Homo sapiens: one gene and its partners. The protein of the gene in region 1 purifies or fractionates together with the protein of each later gene. This does not show direct contact. Each region holds a gene or a part of one and is shown on either strand. Other genes may lie near its edges.

What was found.
Region 2: the proteins of CCN6 (region 1) and DDX47 purify together in Homo sapiens (affinity purification with mass spectrometry; 3 studies listed by BioGRID and IntAct, with this or other methods). This does not show direct contact.
Region 3: the proteins of CCN6 (region 1) and CRELD2 purify together in Homo sapiens (affinity purification with mass spectrometry; 3 studies listed by BioGRID and IntAct, with this or other methods). This does not show direct contact.

What each region holds. Positions count from the first base shown.
Region 1 is NC_000006.12:112,049,564-112,057,117, reverse strand, and holds the start of CCN6 (cellular communication network factor 6 isoform 1 precursor), read right to left. Parts: upstream 3,015-7,554; 5' UTR 2,784-3,014; coding exon of another isoform or gene 2,761-2,783; coding exon 2,713-2,760; intron 1-2,712. UniProt on the Homo sapiens protein: Plays a role in mitochondrial electron transport and mitochondrial respiration. Through its regulation of the mitochondrial function may play a role in normal postnatal skeletal growth and cartilage homeostasis.
Region 2 is NC_000012.12:12,823,346-12,830,370, forward strand, and holds the end of DDX47 (probable ATP-dependent RNA helicase DDX47), read left to right. Parts: intron 1-524; coding exon 525-671; intron 672-1,194; coding exon 1,195-1,332; intron 1,333-2,654; coding exon 2,655-2,725; intron 2,726-3,900; coding exon 3,901-4,030; intron 4,031-6,077; coding exon 6,078-6,209; 3' UTR 6,210-6,636; downstream 6,637-7,025. UniProt on the Homo sapiens protein: Required for efficient ribosome biogenesis. May have a role in mRNA splicing. Involved in apoptosis.
Region 3 is NC_000022.11:49,921,634-49,928,062, reverse strand, and holds the end of CRELD2 (protein disulfide isomerase CRELD2 isoform b precursor), read right to left. Parts: coding exon 6,302-6,429; intron 6,193-6,301; coding exon of another isoform or gene 6,158-6,192; exon of another isoform or gene 6,069-6,157; intron 5,770-6,068; coding exon of another isoform or gene 5,620-5,769; intron 5,452-5,619; coding exon 5,356-5,451; intron 4,830-5,355; coding exon 4,746-4,829; exon of another isoform or gene 4,603-4,745; intron 3,704-4,602; coding exon 3,608-3,703; intron 2,647-3,607; coding exon 2,506-2,646; coding exon of another isoform or gene 2,393-2,505; exon of another isoform or gene 1,495-2,392; intron 809-1,494; coding exon 756-808; 3' UTR 526-755; downstream 1-525. UniProt on the Homo sapiens protein: Protein disulfide isomerase. Might play a role in the unfolded protein response. May regulate transport of alpha4-beta2 neuronal acetylcholine receptor.

The sequences.
Region 1 (7,554 bases):
AATGAAATGCACACTCCCAAAACTGCCCCCGGATGCCTCTTTAACTTTCCAATTTTGAAGCATTTCCAGATAATCTCTGAGGTCAAAAGGTAACACTGTTGAAATCCAAGGATAAAGAGAAAATCATAACAGTAGACTGAGAAAAGCATTACATACTGAATTACATGAAAAATGAGATCTGACTTCTCATCAAAAGACGGAGGAGGAGGAAGAGATTGAGAAGAAGATGTGCAAAGACAATGTTGAAAGGAAAAAAAAACAACCTGTCAACCCAGAATTATATGGCCAGTGAAACCATCTTTCAAAAATGAAGCTGAAATAGCCTGTAATCCCAGCACTTTGGGATGCCGAGGCAGGTGGATCACTTGAGGCGGGGAGTTCAAGACTAGCCTGGCCAACATGGCAAAACCCCATCTCTACTAAAAATACAAAAACTTAGCCAGGTGTGGTGGCGTGCACCTGTAGTCCCAGCTACTCAGGAGGCTGAGACAGGAGAATCGCTTGAACCCAGAAGGCAGAGGTTGCAGTGAGCCAAGACACGCCACTGCACTCCAGCCTAGGCAACAGAGGGTGATTCCATCTCAAAATAAAGAAAATCATAACAGTAGACTGAGAAAAGGGGGAAGCATTACATACAGAAGTACAATAAAACTGAGATCTGACTTCTCATCAAAAGAAGGAGGAGGAGGGAGAGATGGAGAAGAACAAGATGCCCAGAGACAATGTTAAACGGAGAAAAAAAAAAATCCTGTCAATCCAGAATTATATAGCCAGTGAAACTGTCTTTCAAACATGATGGTGAAATAAAAACCGTTTCTGGGTAAACAAAACCTAAGAGAAATTGTTGCTAGCTGATCTGCCTCACAAGAAATACTAAAGGAGGATCTTCGGTCTGAAGATCTTCTGTTATGATAGTAACTTAGAAATACAGGAAGAAATGAAGAGGCCTGGACATAGTCAATATGTGGGTAAATATAAAGAATCTTATATTTTTCACTTTTCCTCAGGCATATTTTGATTGTTTTCAACAGCAAAATTTCAGGACAATAAGCATCACTAGAATGGTGCAATAGAAAGAATAAGCATTTTGACAACAGATCCGAGCTTTGCAACAGCTCTGTGATCTTACAGAACTTCCCATCATTTGATCTCCTCTGTAATATGGGATTAATAATGACCACCTTGTAAAGTTGTTTTGATAATTAAGATAATAACTAAAGCACCCTTGGGCCGGAGGTGGTGGCTCACACCTGTAATCCCAACACTTTGGGAGGCCGAGGTGGGCGGATCACTTGAGGTCAGGAGTTCAAGACCAGCTTGGCCAACAGGGCAAAACCCTATCTCTACTAAAATACAAAAATTGGCAAGGCATGGTGGTGTAGGCCTGTAATCTCAGCTACTTGGGAGGCTGAGGCACAACAATCGCTTGAACCCAGGAGGTGGAGGTTGCAGTGACCCAAGACTGCACCACTGCACTCCAGCCTGGAACGACAGAGCAAGGCTCTGTCTCTAAATAAATAAATAAATAAATAAATAAAGCACCCAGCACAGTATTTGGCATATAGCAGCTATTCAGTAAATGCTAGGTATTATCAGCTATTTCATGAATTTATGAATTCATAAAAGCAAAGTTAAGCACAAAATAATCCATTTTTACCGCTCTTTGTGTAACACCTTTCTGTGTTTGTTGTTGTTTATTTTGTACACATCTCTCTGTGTTGGAATACCTGCTGTCTAAGAACATCTAGCTGCTCTCAATCCACAATGACAGGCTTTTTCTCAAGAACAGTGGAATAGGAGGCACACAGACAGGGGAGTGAGCCCCTCCACAGAACAGCAGCAATGACCTGGACCACTGACATTCTTGTCATGATTCTTTTGAAATCGTAAATCTCTCTCTATATGGTATAACAATTTGCAATTCCTTGTTTTCTAAGATGTATCTACTACTTATGGCCCCAATCAACTACTAACTCACAGACACACCCATGTTTCCTAAATCACCAGATTTCAAAAGCTCTGTCTCCTGTCTACCGTGTAAATAAATCAACAATTAAGTCACCTTGTTTTCATCTTCTTATTTAAAAAGACTAAGGCAATGAATTGCTCATAGTAAGTTAAACTTCCCTTTGGTCTGTTGCTTGAAATATTTCCAAGCCTCCATGGACTGCTTCCCTTTCAGGAAGTGAGAAACACATGGACTGAGAAAAGACAAAGTAAGAGAATGTTTTAAAAATGTAAATGTTTATTCCAAAGTGCCCCTTTCAAAGAAGGACAGACTTAACTGGAAAAAGTCGCTGTCAAAATTCGTTTTTCCAGGGGCTCTTTGCACATTTTGCAAACAGCAATGGAAAGTTGAGCCTCCGCCTGGAGCTGGCATGGAGAGACACTGTTTCCCGCACTGTGCCAGGCTGTGCCTTAGGCTCTGCTATAAAAATATATAGGAAAGCGTGGCGCTGTTCAAACATAGCGAAAGGAGGCTTCGGTGCCATTACCTGAAAGGGAGAAATGTTTTACATTTCTTTCATGAAGCTCATGAACGAACACAGAACTTTATTTGGAAAGAAAAATGGCTTCCTATTTCTCATGAAGTAGTTCCACAAGCCATTGATCCTCCCTCTTCCTCCATCTTCGTTTTGTTTAGTTTTGGGCCTGAAGAACTAAGGATGGCCATAGCCTCCGGAAGGGAAAGAGTCGGGGGAGAGGACTTACCTGTGCCAGGCCAGCAAGCAGAAGAGTGGAGAAGAGGAGCCCCTGCATGTCGCTGGGACCGTGGAGCCACCCTGAGGGGTAGAGAAGTCGCCGCTTGTTCATTGCTCCGGGTACACAAAGCTCCCCTGTCTCCTCTGCAAACCCCACGCTCCTCTGCACAAGAACACACACCCTCTACCTCCCACACTACCAACTTTCAGCCTGCACTTTCATTTTTAAGGATCCGTTTTAATACCCTGTTTACTTTCATGGGACTCTTCTAATAACCTGCCTTCGCAGTGAGCGTGTCACAGGTCAGGAATGGGCGAGCACTTTCCTCCCGGGACTCAGGAGGGCAGGGCAAGTAGTGACTGTTCTCTAAGTGACTGTGTTACCTGTTCCTGGAGAGCAGAGCCTGCCCCCGACAACGGGTGGGGTCCCACGTCATTCCCTTCCTTGCCCTCAGCTTCTCCATCTGTGTTTGCCCTGCTCCGGGTCCTCTCTAGGCTGCTTCCTTCTCCAGCTTCACCCTCACGTACAGAGTGCAGGCCTGGCCCCCCCACCAACAGCACCCATCGCAGCCTAGCCCTGGCTTTCCCCCTCCATATTAATGGCAGGCTCTCGAAGGACCCTGACTCCCCCAGCTCAGATTCTCTCGGAGGCACCCACAGTGCCCTGGGCTCACCTTTATCCCAACACCTTTCTCATGCCAGGTGGACTGTGAGTGGAAAAAATACAGATGGAGCAGGGGGCGGACTCCTACAGTACCTGGCCTGAGAGACGCCTCTTTTTGTGGCCACAGTTCCATGACAGATGACAATGAAGTTAACCTCCATTTTTCCGGGCCTAAAATAAAACAATTACACTGGTAGCAATCATTCATTTAATGAATTAAGATTAAAAATAAGCCTGGCCAATATGATGAAATCCCGTCTCTGCTAAAAAAAAAAAAAGACACAAAAATTAGCCAGGTGTGGTGGCAGGCGCCTGTAATCCCAGCTGCTTGGGAGGCTGAGGCAGGAGAATCGCTTGAACCTGGGAGGCGGAGGTTGCAGTGAGCCGAGATCGCACCATTGCACTCCAGCCTGGGGGACAAGAGTGAGAATTATTCTCAAAAAAAAAAAAAAGATTAAAAATAAAATTTTGACAGGTTTGTACTCCTCTTCTTCATACTCACCTCCCTGAAAGGTGTGACCACCAGCGCATCTCCTCCTGTGTCATCATGTGGGACCTTCGCTTCTCCATGTTCTCAGCCTGGGTCTGTGTTCCCATCTTCATTTGCAGCTGCCGTGGTGCTTTGTCCCTCTCAGGTCCCTGAGGCGTCCCACCTGCCTGCCCCCATCCCAAGGCCTATTTCTATTTCCTTTGATCAGTTACCTATCCCTCCTTTTCCTGCTGCCTTACCTATCCTATACCGATTGCTCACCTTTGTTACTGTTCAAGGCAGTCACTACTGTATAAAGACAACATCAAGCCTCGCTTAGGCCTGAGCTGAGGGCCTGGGAAAAACGAGGCTGTCCTCCACCACAGAGAATCTGGTGTCCTTGGAGAACCATGGACACCCTAAAACCTGCAGATCACACAGAGCTTACTAAGGAGTCATTAAACTGTAAGTATATGCACATCAAACAACAAGGAATACCCACTGCAGTTAGGATGCCAACGCCTTATCTTGCCTCCCTAAGAAATAGGACAAAACCAGATAATGGAGTAGTGAAGAAAATGTGTCTGTTTTGGTCCAATCTGATCTTTTTCTTTTCTTTTTTTTTTTTTATTATTATACTTCAAGTTCTAGGGTACATGTGCACAATGTGCAGGTTAGTTACATATGTATACATGTGCCATGTTGGTGTGCTGCACCCATTAACTCGTCCTTTAGCATTAGGCATATCTCCTAATGCTATCCCTCCCCCCTCCCCCCACCCCACAACAGGCCCCGGTGTGTGATGTTCCCCTTCCTGTGTCCCAGTGTTCTCACTGTAGAGAAGTCCTTAAATGACCTGATGGAGCTGAAAACCATGGCACGAGAACTACGTGATGAATGCACAAGCTTCAGTAGCCGATTCGATCAACTGGAAGAAAGGGTATCAGTGATGGAAGATCAAATGAATGAAATGAAGCGAGAAGAGAAGTTTAGAGAAAAAAGAATAAAAAGAAACGAACAAAGCCTCCAAGAAATATGAGACTATGTGAAAAGACCAAATCTACCTCTGATTGGTGTACCTGAAAGTGACGGGGAGAATGGAACCAAGATGGAAAACACTCTTCAGAATATTATCCAGGAGAACTTCCCCAACCAAGCAAGGCAGGCCAACATTCAAATTCAGGAAATACAGAGAACGCCACAAAGATACTCCTCGAGAAGAGCAACTCCAAGACACATAATTGTCAGATTCGCCAAAGTTGAAATGAAGGAAAATATGTTAAGGGCAGCCAGAGAGAAAGGTCGGGTTACCCACAAAGGGAAGCCCATCAGACTAACAGCGGATCTCTCGGCAGAAACTCTATAAGCCAGAAGAGAGTGGTGGCCAATATTCAATGCTCTTAAAGAAAAGAATTTTCAACCCAGAATTTCATATCCAGCCAAACTAAGCTTCATAAGTGAGGGAGAAATAAAATCCTTTACAAACAAGCAAATGCTGAGAGATTTTGTCACCACCAGGCCTGCCCTACAAGAGCTCCTGAAGGAAGCACTAAACGTGGAGAGGAACAACTGGTACCAGCCACTGCAAAAACATGCCAAATTGTAAAGACCATCAATGCTAGGAAGAAACTGCATCAACTAACAAGCAAAATAACCAGCTAACATCATAATGTGGATCAAATTCACACATAACAATATTAACCTTCACACTTAACAATATTAACCTTAAATGTAAATGGACTAAATGCTTCAATTAAAAGACACAGACTGGCAAATTGGATAAAGAGTCAAGACCCATCAGTGTCCAATCTGATCTTTGTCTTTTTATCTTCCTGGTTATCACCATTGGTCTGTGGGTACCAGCCTGTGATTCCCACACCACACCGGCTGTCAGGATGGATAATTTCATGTTTCTGGTTTGTCTATGAAAAGCAGAGGAGTCGCATCCCAACACTGGGGTATTCATCAACTGTATCTCTCCAGCTCCAGCTCTCCCCCGGTTCCACATATAGTAATGCACATATCAGTGCAATTTTTGAATTTAAGGAGTTTCACCCTCCTCCCGTTTGCTGTCTGTGAAATGCTGGCGGCAGCAGGCATTTTTCTGGAATCGTCTTCCATCCCTCTGCAGTCTCACTGACGTGGAGCAGGGGAAGATAGATGTTGACCATCCTTGCCTCTTGGTAGGAAAGGAACATCTTGCTTGAAAAGTGACCTGCAAAACCTCCCCCAGCTCCAGAACACACTGGCGCTGGGTTACTCACTCCCACATGTGTTTAGACATCTTTGGCTGTGGGAGCTCCTATTTAACTCTTTCCAGCCGACTGTGTGTGGACTCCATGGATATGGTAGTTTTAGAGGTCGGGGCTGCTATTTTTGACCTTACACAATAAGAGCTTTCACAGTGTGTGTCCTGTTCTGAGCATGTTTCCCTATTATCTCATTTAACAGAATGCTAATCTGTCTAGGAGCTCATTTCACAAGTGTTCAGTTTGTGATGTACGTTCCAATAGACATGGCGCTAAGCATAATTCAATGTGCACCATGTTCTATGATTTACAAAGAAGTTTCCTGTGTATTACATTTTTAATTTCACAGCTCAGTGAGGTGGGCAAAAGCAGTATTACCAACCTCATTTAACAGATTAAAAAGTGAAAGCTAAGCGATTATACTTGGTCAATAAAACACACTTAATCTCTGCCCTCTACAGCTAAATAATCTACTGGGAGAGAAGACGCTGAACAAATAAACACACAAAATGTCCGTCATTGAAAGTTGAATAAAGGCTAATAAGAGCAAAGAAGAAATTATAAGAGAGAATGACAGGTGAGAGCTAATTTAGATTGGGGGCAGAGAGGACATCTGAGGAAGTGATACTTAGTCAAGAGATGAAGCTAGATGAAGAGTCGGGAGACAACTGCCAGTCCAGGACTCCTTCCACTGGCAAGATGCACACCTCTAATGGTGGTGAGCTCCCCCGCACAGAGCACACCCCACTCCTTTCCCGTAAGATTCCTAAAATCGTTCTGTTAGGAGCGTCATCACAGCTAGAATAGTCCCTTCTCCTGGGAGTACCAGCCGTCCGGGCAGGCAGTGTTTGGAGCTCATGCCTGTGGTCAGCAAGCTTAGTACAGTATGAGTCTTCCTTTCCTCATCCCCTCTTTCCTTATCTTCCTATCTTACTGATTGTGGAGAAGGGTGTATTGACATCCTTGAGAAAAGAGAAGATATTGTTTGTGGAAGTAATGTATTGAATGTGTGCTATGAGGGGGGTCAATATTTGCTCCAGTGAAATAGAGATATAGTAACAATAACACAGCTTGGGCAACATAGTGAGACCCCATCTTTACAAAATAGAAAGTAAAAAAATTAGCCAGGTGTGGTGGTGCATACCTGTAGTCCTAGCTACTTGGGAAACTGAGACAGGAAGATTGCTTGAGCCCAGGATGTTGAGGCAACAGTGAGCTATGATCATACCACTGCACTCCAGCCTGGGAAACAGAGAGAAATCCTGTCTCAAAAAAAAAAGTATAATAATAATAAGAGCTAACATTGGCCGAGTGTCACTGTGTCTCAATATTGTACTGAGTGCTGTATATGTATTAACTCCTCTGATCCTTCAGCAACACTGGGCCTGTGTTCTGTGATTACCATCTTTGGTTTACTTATTAGGAAACTGGGGCAAGGTCACATGGTTAGCAAGAGGTAGAACCAAGATT
Region 2 (7,025 bases), on another chromosome or scaffold:
GCCTCTCCCTCTTCTTTTCACCAAAGCATCTGAAAATGTGTCAACTCTTGATTAGGTAAGAGCTGTAATGCAGATTGGCATCCTGTCTGTTTGCTTTAGAGTGCATATCGTGCTTATATTATCACCGATAAGCCAGACATGCCAGGAATTCACAACACATTAAATCACAATACTGAGGTCATGATGTAATCATATAATTCCTTCCCATCCCCATCCTTGAGGTAATTTTTCCTTTGTCTGCTTATTATGTGGCTTTTATTTAGGATGAAGCCCCTGGTTTTGTGCTTTGATATAAGGACTTCTCCTGTTTGCTGAGTACAGATCTCCTGCCTGCCTTAAGGCTAAGTGGGGAATATGTGGTTCACAGAGATGATAATGCTGGTTAAGGAATGCAAAGCTGGCAGCTGGAGGTCTGGATAATTGAAAAGCGACTATAGGCTTAGTCTTTACCTTATGTATATGCCAGGTCTCCAATCCTGTCTCCCAGGTTCAATGACATATATTGTTTTGGGTTTGTAACTTAGGATACCTACCTGGTTTATATTCTAAATGAATTGGCTGGAAACTCCTTTATGATATTCTGCAGCACCTGTAATAATACCCAGAGAACAGCTTTGCTACTGCGAAATCTTGGCTTCACTGCCATCCCCCTCCATGGACAAATGAGTCAGGTAAGGATTCATCATCATCATCAGCCATGCACTGGTGGCGTGAGCGAGATAAACCTCCTAACAGTAGGTTTGTACAATAAGGCCATAGGGCACCGATGCCTGTTTCCATAATTGTTGTAATTTTATGGGCTTTGAAGTGTTGCTCTAGATACTTACTTTCTCCTTTCAGGGTAGCGAGAGGCTCCCATTAGAATATTTCATATGTACCTGTCTGGTTTGCAAGCTGTTGAGTTGATTTATTCAGCCCTAGTGGTAATAATGACTCTGGCCTCTAAAAACATTAATAAATTATTTCCCAGTTACCTTTCTATCGTGTCAAACTACCCTTATTTTGTATCATATATATTTTTTTAATTTTTTGTTGCTTCCATATTTCTGTTTTGACCTGTGAAGCCCCATTCAAAACTTAGGGGGAAAAACCTTTAAAAAATTTATGTCTGTTTGTTCTCGTGTTTGTCTATTTTGTGTTTTGTATTCCAAAACATAGGTTAAGTTTTCCAACATTTCTTTTTCATTACCTCAGAGTAAGCGCCTAGGATCCCTTAATAAGTTTAAGGCCAAGGCCCGTTCCATTCTTCTAGCAACTGACGTTGCCAGCCGAGGTTTGGACATACCTCATGTAGATGTGGTTGTCAACTTTGACATTCCTACCCATTCCAAGGTGAGTCCTATTGCTAACTTACCTTTCTAGTCCTAAAGTGTATTTCTTAATGGACTGTCTTCTGTCTTTCCTTAGTTACAGCAGTTATTTTGTTCCTGGTTAATTAAGTATCAAAAAACAAGAAAGCCCTTGGTTAGTTCATTCACATCATCTTGCACAGGCCTGTGTATGTAACATTAGTACATATGAAAGAGGTAGCCAAGGAGAGTTATTAGATGCTCATAGAAGGGGCTGGTGCGCCACATACTGATCTTGTCACTGTCATTTCTTGAGAATGACAGCTTGTAGTTTTTTTGAGGCGGAGTCTCGCTCTGAGTTTTCTGAGGTGGAGTCTGCACCCAGTCTGGAGTGCAGTGGCGCAATCTTGGCTCACTGCATGCTCTGCCTCCTGGGTTCACGCCATTCTCCTGCCTCAGCCTCCCGAGTAGCTGGGACTACAGGCGCCCACCACCACGCCCGGCTAGTATTTTTAGTAGAGATGGGGTTTCACCGTGTTAGTCAGGACGGTCTTGATCTCCTGACCTCGTGATCTGCCCACCTCGGCCTCCCAAAGTGCTGGGATTACAGGCGTGAGCCACCGTGCCCGGCCTACAGCTTGTAGTGCTTAGTGTATCTCAAGGTTTCTCAGCCTTGGCACTATTAACATTTTAAGCTTTCGAATTCCTTGTTGTGGGGGTTGTTCTTTGAGTTGAAGGATTCCTAGTAGCATTCCTGGCCTTTACCCAGTAGATAACAGCATCACACAGTCTTCCACCTGTGATAATCAGAAATATTTCCAGACATTACCAGTGTCCCTTGAGGATGGCAGAATCACCCCTGGATGAGAACTGTTGTGTCTCTTGTCTTTGTATTTAACTGCTGTAGACAAGATGCTGTCTCATTTGATTTTCATAACAACTCTGTAATATGGGCATGTATTTCTATTCCTGTTCACTAGATAGAAACCAAGGTTCAGAGAGGTTATGTGATTTGCAGGTAATTGTGTAACTGGCAGATGGGAAGGATCAGAGCTGTAATCCAGCTCTGCCTCGAGATCCAGTGCTGTTTTTTAAAATACCATGCAGCCTGCGACCATGTAGATATGCTTTGTAGATTTATCTGTCTGTGAAAGAAGGGAAAGCATTGGATCAATTTTGTGCTGCAAGGAGAACAAAAAAGATGAAGTAGATTTGTCTCAACAAATTGCCCCGGCCATTTATTTTCTCCATGTTACGAAATGAATCTATTTTCTTTCAAAGGTTTTGCAGCAGGACTTTGCATATGTAGTTTTTTTTAAACTTATAATCCATATAACTTGAATTTATTTACCCTTTTTGTTTTAGGATTACATCCATCGAGTAGGTCGAACAGCTAGAGCTGGGCGCTCCGGAAAGGCTATTACTTTTGTCACACAGTAAGTAAATCAGCTTTAGGGCCGAGCAATGTAGAGAAAAGAGCAGAACTTTCAAGCCACTGGCTGAGAACCTGACACTACCATTTACTACACTAATCACTTTCATACTGAAAACCAGGATGAAGGAGTTGAAAGATGGGAATAATAATACCTATCTAGCAGGGTTTTGGTGAAAATTGGAGATTATATATGTAAAAGATCTAGTATAGTATTTGGCATGTAGAATGGTACCTAGAGCTGGAGAGCAATTGCCTTTGTGTCAACTCAGAAAGTATTAGAATAACTATTTCCAATTGTTTTTTTTAAAGAAACAAATTTTTATGTACCCAAGGCTGTTCTGTGAATAAATACCTTGAGGGATTTTCTCCCTCCCTCCTTTCCTTTTTTTTTTTGTATTTGTCTCGCTCTGTCGCCTAGGCTGGAGTGCAGTGGTGCAGTCTTGGCTAAGTGCACCTTCCACCCCCTGGGCTCAAGCAATCCTCCTACCTCACCATAGCTTCCCAAGTAGCTGGGACCACAGGTGCATGCCAGCACACCTGGCTTTTTAAAAAATATTTTTAGTAGAGATAGGGTTTTGTCATGTTGGCCAGGCTGGTCTTGAACTCCTGAGCTCAAGCGATCCACCTGCCTTAGCCTCTCATAGTGCTGGGATTACAGGCACAAGCCACCTGCCTGGCCGATTTTTGTTTCTTTTTCTTTTTTTAAGCAGCAAGGTTTCACTCTGTTGACCAGGCTGGAGTGCAGTGACTTGATCATAGCTCACTGCAGCTTCAAACTCCTGGGCTCAAGTAGTCCTCATACCTCAGTCTCCTGAATGGCTGGGATTACAGGCACATGCCACCACGGTTGGCTAATTTTTAATTTTTTATAGAGATGGCATCTCACTGTGTTGTCCAGGCTGGTCTGGAACTCCTGGTCTCAAGTGATTCTCCTGCTTTGACCTCCCAAAGCGTTGGGATTACAGGTGCAAGCCACCATGCCTGGCCTCCCTTGAGTGATTTTCTAATGGGCTATGCACAGAGATTGCACTTAACCCATATTTAGAAAAGAAATAATATGTTCAATATTGTTTAAACCTATGGTTCCTATTGCGTTGTATCATATAATAATAGTTTGGGAATGGACAGGCATTTGCGTTACCAGGCAACCAGAGCTGTGCAGTTTTCCTTCCTCAGGTATGATGTGGAACTCTTCCAGCGCATAGAACACTTAATTGGGAAGAAACTACCAGGTTTTCCAACACAGGATGATGAGGTTATGATGCTGACAGAACGCGTCGCTGAAGCCCAAAGGTTTGCCCGAATGGTATGCATCTTTCTTTTCTCACCAGTGTCTGTGCAAACAATGTTAACTGTGTGCCACTTTATTATATTAACCCTCATACTAAACTGCAGAAGCTGGGTATTATTTTATTCCAAATTTAAGACGAGCAAACTAAGGTGCAGAGATGGTAGGTAATTTGCATTAGACCATACAACCAAATGGTTGAATCAAGGTTTGGCCTCATTCTGACATTCACACATTCACAGCACCTGTTCATGTGTCGCACGTGGTGAGATAGTTCATCAGACTTGAGGTCAGAAGATCCAGCTGTGAACTGTGTGAGCTTGGGAAATTTGCCTGATTTCTCAGAATCAGAATCAGTTTCTCACCTGTAAATTGGGAATAACACTTGCCTGAATACCTTATGGGGTTTTATGAGCACCAGAGAAGCCAATATAAACTACATAGTTACTAGTAGGGGTTGATCATACCTAATCCAAAAATTTGAAATCCAAAACCAAGATCCAAAACTTTTCTTTTTTCTTTTTTTTTTTTTTTTTGAGATGGAGTTTTGCTCTTGTTGCCCAGGCTGGAGCGAATGGTGCAATCTCGGCTCACCACAACCTCCGCCTCCCGGGTTCAAGCGATTCTCCTGCCTCAGCCTCCCGATTACAGGCATGTGCCACCATGCCCAGCTAATTTTGTATTTTTAGTAGAGATGGGGTTTCTCCATTTTGGTCAGGCGAACTTCTGACCTCAGGTAATCCCCCCGCCTCGGCCTCCCAAAGTGCTGGGATTACAGGCTTGAGCCATTGTGCCCAGCAATCCAAAATTTTTTGAGTGCGAAAAGGATTGCCGCAAGTGGAAAATTCCATGCCTGACCTCGTGTGACAGGTTGCTATCAAGACACAGTCAAAATGTTTTTAATGCACAAAAATATTAAAAATATGATGTAAAATTACCTTCAGACAATTAAAAATATTGTGTAAAATTACCTTCATATATAAGGTATATATGAAACAAGTGAATTTTGTGTTTAGAGTTGAGCCCCATCCCCAAGATAGCTCATATGTATCTGCAAATATTCTAGAATTAGAAAAAATCTGAAGTCCGAAACACTGCTGGTCCCAAGCATTTCAGATAAGGGATACTCACCCTGTAAGTAGTAGTAACAGTAATAGTGGTGATGAGAAGATTCTAGAGGAAAACCATTGGAAGTGCTGCCTGCTTTCTGGAGTTCTGGTCTGAGGGATGGAGAAACTTTGCCCATAGTTTGTTTTTGGAGTAGCTGAGGTGCACATTTGGTTTTTATTCTGTCCACATGGGATTTTTTTGTTTGTAAAAGTATTACATGTGCATTGGGAAAAAAATTCAAAAAATACAGAAAGGATTAAAGTAGTAAGTGAAAAGGTAAACCATTCCCCACAGAAAACCATTGATAACATTTGGCTATTTTTCTTTCTTTAGCCATAATTAGACTTTATCTAATTATATAGGATTAACATTTTTCTGTTTCAACAAATACAGATTCATGTGATCGTTTCTTAATGGCTACAAAGAATTCCATCATGTGTATGAAATACTTACATTCATGGATGCTTACGCTTTTTTCCAGTTTCTTTCTACTTTGGTACAGTGTTAAACACCCTACTTTGTACAGCTTTGCATATTTACTTCCTTAGAATAAATTCCTAGAAGTACACTTGTTGGGCCAAGGGACATACACAGTTAAAATTTGAATTCATACAGAATGCCAAATTGTCCCCCGCCCCAAGAAAAGCTATAGCAGATTGCACTATAAATGAGAGTATATGTGAATTTTTCTACACCTTGGCCAATACTGGGGATTACCCTTCTCTTAAGTCTTTGCCAATCTGCCATGTGAAAATAAAACCTTACTTTAGTGTTCACGTTTTGATTACTAATAAGGTTAACATCTTTGTATATTTGGAGTTGGGTCTTGTTCCTTTGCTAATGTCAGGCATCAGCAAGTTACTTGATACTTGATCTTAAGGAGAGGGGACTAGAATGAGTAACCTTCAGTGCCAGTAATTCATTTTCAATCCCATCCTCTCTTTTTTTCTTGCAGGAGTTAAGGGAGCATGGAGAAAAGAAGAAACGCTCGCGAGAGGATGCTGGAGATAATGATGACACAGAGGGTGCTATTGGTGTCAGGAACAAGGTGGCTGGAGGAAAAATGAAGAAGCGGAAAGGCCGTTAATCACTTTTATGAAGGCTCGAGTTCTGCTGTTCTGTAAAAGAGAATTGGAGAATGAAACCTGCTCCAACAGAGATCATGAGACTGAAATTGGTCAGAATTGTGTCCAGAATGTGCTCAGCTAATTCAGTATTCTTCCCCATTCTGGGTTGGAGTTTACTGCAGAGTAATTCTTACAGTGCTGATGTCAAGACTGTTACTGTTCTTCGACTTTGATTCCTTGCTCATGACATGAGTAGGGTGTGCTCTTCTGTCACTTCACACAGACCTTTTGCCTTTTTTAGCTGCAAGTCAAGGACTAGGTTGATGATGCCCATGACCTGTAATTGTAAAGAAGCTTGGACATCTGCAAATGATATTTAAACCATCTTGGCTTGTGCTTTATTCAAACTAATGTGAAACAATAAATTTAAATATTATTTTTAAAAGATTCTAACTCCTTAAAGACCTTGGTGTTAAAGGGCCTTATAGATTTAAGTAAGATCTTGTTAATAGGTAAGAACCTGACAGTGTTGATTACATGGCAAATTCATTGGTTGTCCTAATTAAGATAAATATTTATTACTTAAAAAAATCAACAAGGAAACGAGATGATGGATGGCTTTGAAAGGGAAGCCCCAGCCGGGTGTGGTGGCTCACGCCTGTAATCCCAGCACTTTGGGAGGCCAAGATGGGCAGATCAGGAGGTCAGGAGATTGAGACCATCCTTGGTAACACCGTGAAACCCTGTCTCTACTAAAAATACACACACAAAAAAAACATTAGCCTGGCGTGGTGGCGGGCGCCTGTAGTCCCAGCTACTCGGGAGGCTGAGGCAGG
Region 3 (6,429 bases), on another chromosome or scaffold:
CGGCGTGACTGAGGAGTGGGTGGTGGGGACCAGGCCAAGTGGGACTTGGGGGCTATGAGGAGCCCAGGGAGGAGGCCATGGCCCCCCGGAACGGAGCTCCCAGAGCCTGCAGCCTCTCACCCGCAGCCAGCTTTCTTCTTGCAGTGTCTTCATTCCCAGATGAGGAACGGGCAGGCCCTGCGGTTTGTGAGTGGCTGTTTCCTCCAGCGAAGCCCCCAAAGATGCTTTTCCCCTGCCTGAGGGTCCCTGCTTGTACATCCTTTGAATCACTGAAGAGGGCCCATAGGTTGGACCCCTGAAACCCACCTGGTCACGTCTTCAGGTTCTCGCCCAAGGCAGGGCCCTCCCCTCCTCCCCCAAGCGGCACGTGAGCCCTGTTCAGGGACAGCAGAGCCACCAGCCCAGGACCGGACCTGCTGCCTCTGCGGACCTCGGCAGCCCTGGTCACTCCCGGCTCTGGCAGGACAGGTGCAAACTCAGTGGTAAAGGTCCGTCCTGATTAATGAGACAAACCCACGCCCGTTCTCCTCCTGATTACCTACAATGGTCAATTTTATTACAAAGAACTGTATCAAAATATACAAGTCTGTTTAAGAACAACCAAGAAATGCAGCTGTTTAAGGGACAAATGAGAATCAACCGTTAGAGAGCAGGCAGCCTCTCCCCGCCGCTGTCCACTGCAGGAGACGGCATCCTCAGGGCCACATTTTCCACGGGACATCCTTCTGAATAATTTAAAGGGTAAGTCCGGCACATTACAGGTCTTCGCGGGAGGGCAGCTGTGTCGGGCTTTCTCCTTCTGTGGCTTCTGTCAGAAAACAAGCATAGGTCGTCAAGGCTGAGCACAAAGGGCCCTGGGGATGAGGCCTTTCCCAGGACAGCAGCGCATGTGCAGGGCCTGCCCGTCCAGTCCTGGCTCAAAGCCCCGGACGCAGCCATCCAAGGGCAGCTCGGAGACCCCCGTTTCCCACAAAGCAGATGAGAGATGAGGCAGACGGCATTTCAGAGCCCCCACGCTGCCGTGGGTGTGGAGGATGCAGAGTTGGGAGCGGCAAGGGGTTCCTTGCGGCCTGGCAGAATGGGAGCCTGAACAATGGTTGTGGCGGGAGGAGAAAGAGGGGACCGAGGGTGGGGGAGGTAGGAGAAAGAGGGGACTGAGGGTGGTACGGGGAGGGAGGGGCAAGAGGGGACCGAGGGTGGGGGGGAGGGAGGAGAATGAGGGGACGGGGGGGAGGGAGGGGCAAGAGGGGACCCGGGGTGGGGGGAGGGAGGGGCAAGAGGGGACCCGGGGTGGGGGGAGGGAGGGGCAAGAGGGGACCCGGGGTGGGGGGAGGGAGGGGCAAGAGGGGGGGAGGGAGGGGCAAGAGGGGACCCGGGGTGGGGGGAGGGAGGGGCAAGAGGGGACCCAGGGTGGTGGGAGGGAGGGGCAAGAGGGGACCGAGGGTGGGGGGAGGGAGGGGCAAGAGGCAGGGCCAGCCCAGGGCAGAGGGGACCGAGGGGGTAGCAGGCAGCCTTGTCTTCTGGCCTGTCCGTCTCTGCTAACCCCTCAGTTCTGTCTTGCTGTTGCTGTTTACTACGATGCTTCTAGATGTGGAATTGCTTTTATTTGTCCTGCTCAGGAAACAGCTTCTGGAATCTGAATCGTGCCTTATTCATTCTGAAAAACCCTTAGCCAATATCTCCTTGAACACTGCTTCTTTCCCACTCTCTATATTCTAGACTTCTGTGAGGACTGTCACGGGCAGATTTATGTCCCCCAAAACACGCTGAAGTCTTTACTCCCAGTACCTGTGATTGTGACCTTGTTTGGAAATAGGGTCTTTACCACTGGCCAGGTTAACATGAGGGCATTAGTGACTGGTGTCCTTACAAAGAGGGGAGGTTTGGACAGAGACAGACACCCGCATGGAGACCACGTGAAGACACGGGGAGCAGGTGGCATCCCCAGGCGAGGACAGAGGCCCGGAACAGACGCGCCCACCCAGCCTCCCAAGGAAGCAGCCTGCTTGCGTCTGGGCCTCTGACTTCTGGCTCCTGTGAGCGGCACATTTCTGTTGCTGGAGCCCTAAGTTCCTGGTTCTTGGTAAGGTAGCCCCAGGAAACAGGTGTGGGGGACCCGCTTGCCCTCCACCACTTCCTGCCTGTCCCTGTCTCTGCGGCACCCTGGGCAGCTTCCCCGGATGACTTTTCCAGCTCTTTAGCTGCCTCTTCTCCTGCGTCTGCTCCTCTGCTCATCGCCCGCTGAGGTCTGAGCTTCAGAGACTTCCCCCTTCATCGCCTGAACTTCCGTTTGAGCTGTGAACCTGGGGCTTCATCCTCAGGAAGCCAGTACCTCTCGCGCAAGCGTGCCCACACAGAGATGTCATGCACCTGTCTTCCGGGAATCCCCCTCTCACCATCTCAAGGCCACCATCTGTGTGGATTTCAGACCAAGCAGCCAGTCTACGTGCAAGCCCTGCGGCCCAGGGGAGGGCAGCCTGTGTGGAGGGCAGCCGTGCCACTCACCAGCCTCTGCCGGCGGCACACAGGCATCTTCCGTTTCTTCGAAGCCGTCAGGACACACACAGACGTAGCTCCCTGGAGTATTGTAGCAGTTTTCGTTTTTCCTCACACAGGTTTTTTCTGCTAGTGAGCACTCGTCCACATCTAAAATGAAAAGACTCCGTTTTAATAATTACTTTGCTCAGCAGACGCGCAGCGGATTATGAAATTCATTCATTCAGATTCATTCACATAAAGAAAGCACAACGATGACAAACGTCACGTTACAGAAAGGAGCAAAGATCAGGAAAGGCTTCGAGAGGGAAGAATTTCACGTCTCCAAGTTGGGCCCTCAACTGGTAGAAAATGCAGAGAAGAGACCTCCAGGTGGGGCCGGAAGGCCAGCATGCGCCCAGGAAGCCCACTTTCTTTTCCTTTTTTTTTTTTTTTTGAGGCGGAGTCTCGCTCTGTCGCCCAGGCTGGAGTGCGGTGGCGCGATCTCCTCTCACTGCAAGCTCCGCCTCCCGGGTTCACGCCATTCTGCTGCCTCAGCCCCCCGAGTAGCTGGGACTACAGGCGCCCGCCACCACGCCCGACTAATTTTTTGTATTTTTAGTAGAGATGGGGTTTCACCGTGTTAGCCAGGATGGTCTCGATCTCCTGACCTCGTGATCCCCCCGCCTCAGCCTCCCAAAGTGCTGGATTACAGGCATGAACCATGGCGCCTGCCCAGGAAACCCACTTTCTCCACCGGGTTCCATCCACGCCCAGGCTCACCCAGGCAGCCCACAACCATGGCAGGCCTGGACTTAAGCCTCGGGGCAATCGCCACCCAGGAGCTGGAGGGAGAGCAGAGGCGGTGGACCTGGGGAACGAGGCCACCGGCGAGAGGCTGGTGCAGCAGCGCCATCCACACCAGGGTCGGCCATGCAGAGCCCGTCCCCCACCCCCACTGCTTCTGTGTCTCACGTGGACCTCAGGGCGAGTGCACAGTGACCCTGGGGGAGCCACGTCTGCAGGACGGGTCTCAACTGCTTCCCATCCCTGGCAGTACCTGCTGGGGCCATTCACATCATGGTCACTTGGGAAGGGTCCACCAGCGTCCAGCACAGACCCCGTCACTGACCTGCACACTGTCCGTGCTCCCTCGCGTAGCCAGAGATACACTCTTTACAGTTTCCTGGGCCTTCCCCTGTGCAGCCCACACAGCTGGAGTCACACTCTGCAACAGGGAGCCAGCGTCAGACCCCGACATGCACAAGGCACCAGTGCCCGTCAGACCCCGACATGCACAAGGCACCGGTGCCGCCAGGATTTGGGTTTTCTCCTCATTCATCACCAAGTGACTTTATAACGATCTGTCTCTGTCTCCCGGCAAAAGCACAGACTCGCGTCCTGCTGTGCAGCAGGTGCTCCCGGAGAGCCATGGTGCAGACCACCTGGCTTGGAACTCTTTGGGAGAAACTGGGTGCTACAGAGATTCTAGAAACAAACCCACCTCCAGCTCGGTGACCATTGGTTTGCCAGCCTGCCAGGAGCTTCCTAAGAATAACCAGAGCCTCTCGCATGGCTTCCAGTATTAGTGGCTCACTGAGGGACCCACTGTCTGCACTCCCAACAGTGAAAACTGCCTGGGGCTGTCACACACACGGGGCAGAGGCGGCCTCCTCCCTGCTGCTGGGACTGGGGATCAGCACAACTTTTCTGGGGCACTATGGCTCTAAAAGACACATTCCCTTGACTGAGCGATTTGGAAATTAATCCACAGAAAATCATAAGGAATGTGAAAAGTTTACCTTCAAGTGTTCACAGTTTATAAGTTGAAAAACTGTTATGACGTAAACGTCCAGCAACAGACATTGTTGTAAAAGTATGAAATAATGGCTCCAAAATCATTAGCGTGACAGAGAAACCACAGGACGCAGAGACGTTCGCAACAAGCTGCTGAGTGGAAAACACCCGACAGGCGCTGCGGAAAGTCACGCAGGGCACGTTGCGGGGGCGCTGGGGGGGCACGAGCAGTGGAGGCACCAGCAGGGTGCGCTCTCCAGGGAGTTCCTGGGTTTTTAACTGTTTTCTTTTCATCTGACTTGAATTTTCTGATTTTCCTGCAGCAAATACCTATGACTTACTTTGCCACACTAAGTGTTCTCAGGGCAGGCAGGATGTATGGAAGTGACACTAAGAAGCCATAAATGAATGTTGACAAAGGCAGCAACGAAACCCGGCAGGCCCCGGAGTGCAGACCCGCCCGCCTGGCCCACCTTCGCACGTGTAGGAGCCGTTGGCGTTCTTACAGAACTGCGCAGCGCTGCAGGGAGGCGGCTCGGCCGCACACTCGTCCACATCTGGAACAGAGCGGCACAGCTGTGAGCGGCCCAGGACAGCCCGGCCAGGGAGCGGGGAAGGACCGATCATGGCCTGACACAGCCCGTGGCCAGGGCCGGCTGGGGAAGGGCAGGGAGGAGGGCAGCCCCTGAGGAGGAATCATCTCAAATGCCATCCTCGGAGGCCCCACGCGGCAGGGGAGGGGATGAGGCGATGGCCAGGCCCTGTCCTTAGACACTCAGTGCCAACCGGGGCAGGCGCCCCATGAGGATGGCGACACATTGTGTGAGAGTGAGACAGTGAGTGCCCCCACACCTCACGCCCCCACCTCACGCCCCCACACCTCACGCCCCACCTCATGCTCCCCCACACCTCACGCCCCCCACACCCCAAGCCCCACACCTCACGCCCCCACCTCACGCCCCCACACTTCACGCCCCCCTGCCTCCCGCCCCCATGCCTCACACCCCCCACGCCTTACGCCCCCATCTCACACCCCCCACGCCTCACGCAGGCGCCCTCCTCCACCCCCGGGCCGCTCCTCACCCACACAGGCGCCCTCGTCCAGCACCCAGCCCACTTCACACTCGCCGCAGTCTCTGTTGGTCAGGCCCGAGCACGTCTTGCAGGACTCGTCACAGGCTGGAAGGCAAAGGCGGGCCTGGGTACAAACCCCACTCTCAGGTACCAGCTTGGGGACAAGGCTCGTTTAAAAGTGAGGAATTTAAGAGGGAAAAGCAACACGGGATTTTCAGTGCCCATGAATTTAAAATTCTCAGCAAACCAGGACTCCAAGGAATTTTTAATAACCTGGAGAGAAGGCAGCTATCCATACTCTGGAGCTGTAGCCTGGCTGGGTGTGCGTGTTCCGGCCACGGATCCATGCGTGGCCCACGCCACGCCAACATCCAAGAGACAGACAGCAAGGCGGGTAAGAATCGGAGAGGCCGGTCCTGACTGCTGAGGGGCGTAAGAATCGGAGAGGCCGGTCCTGACTATCGATCCACGGGTCTGTCTGCCCAGAATAGCCTAGGGGCTGCCGGCCAACCACACACTCACGTCCGAGACACTCAGAGTTTTCCTACATATCAGTGACAACCAGGGAGAAAACGTCCTTTGGAAAGATGCCACTCATAACGGCCTGCAGGGATTTGACAGATGCTGCTCTCTGGGCCGGTGCGGGGCCCACACGGCACCTCCAGGACCTGTGCACTGCATGGCCCATCACAACTCAAGGTCGGGGTGGACCTTGAACTAGAGAGAAAGGTGAGTAGCTTCTCCCTTCTGAGGGCTGTTACGGGACAGGAAGTGCCCGACAACCTCTGCCTCTATCCTCTGATGTTTTCATTCATCCTTCTGGGCCCTCGAAGCTTCCTTGGACATCTGGGGTTAAAGATCAACAGGCCCCTGTTCCCATCTAGGCAGGCAGCTCCAGCAAGGGGCTCTTGTCATCCCGCCTCAACCCCGGGGCCAGCCCAGGCGTAGCCCGTACCTGTGCAGATGCTGTGGGTCTCGTTCCGGAGCGAGCTGAAGTAGCCGTCCATGCAGTCAGTGCACAGCGGGCCCTGGTACCCCATGTGGCACCGGCAGGACCCGTCGCCCTGTCTGCTCCCATCTCCG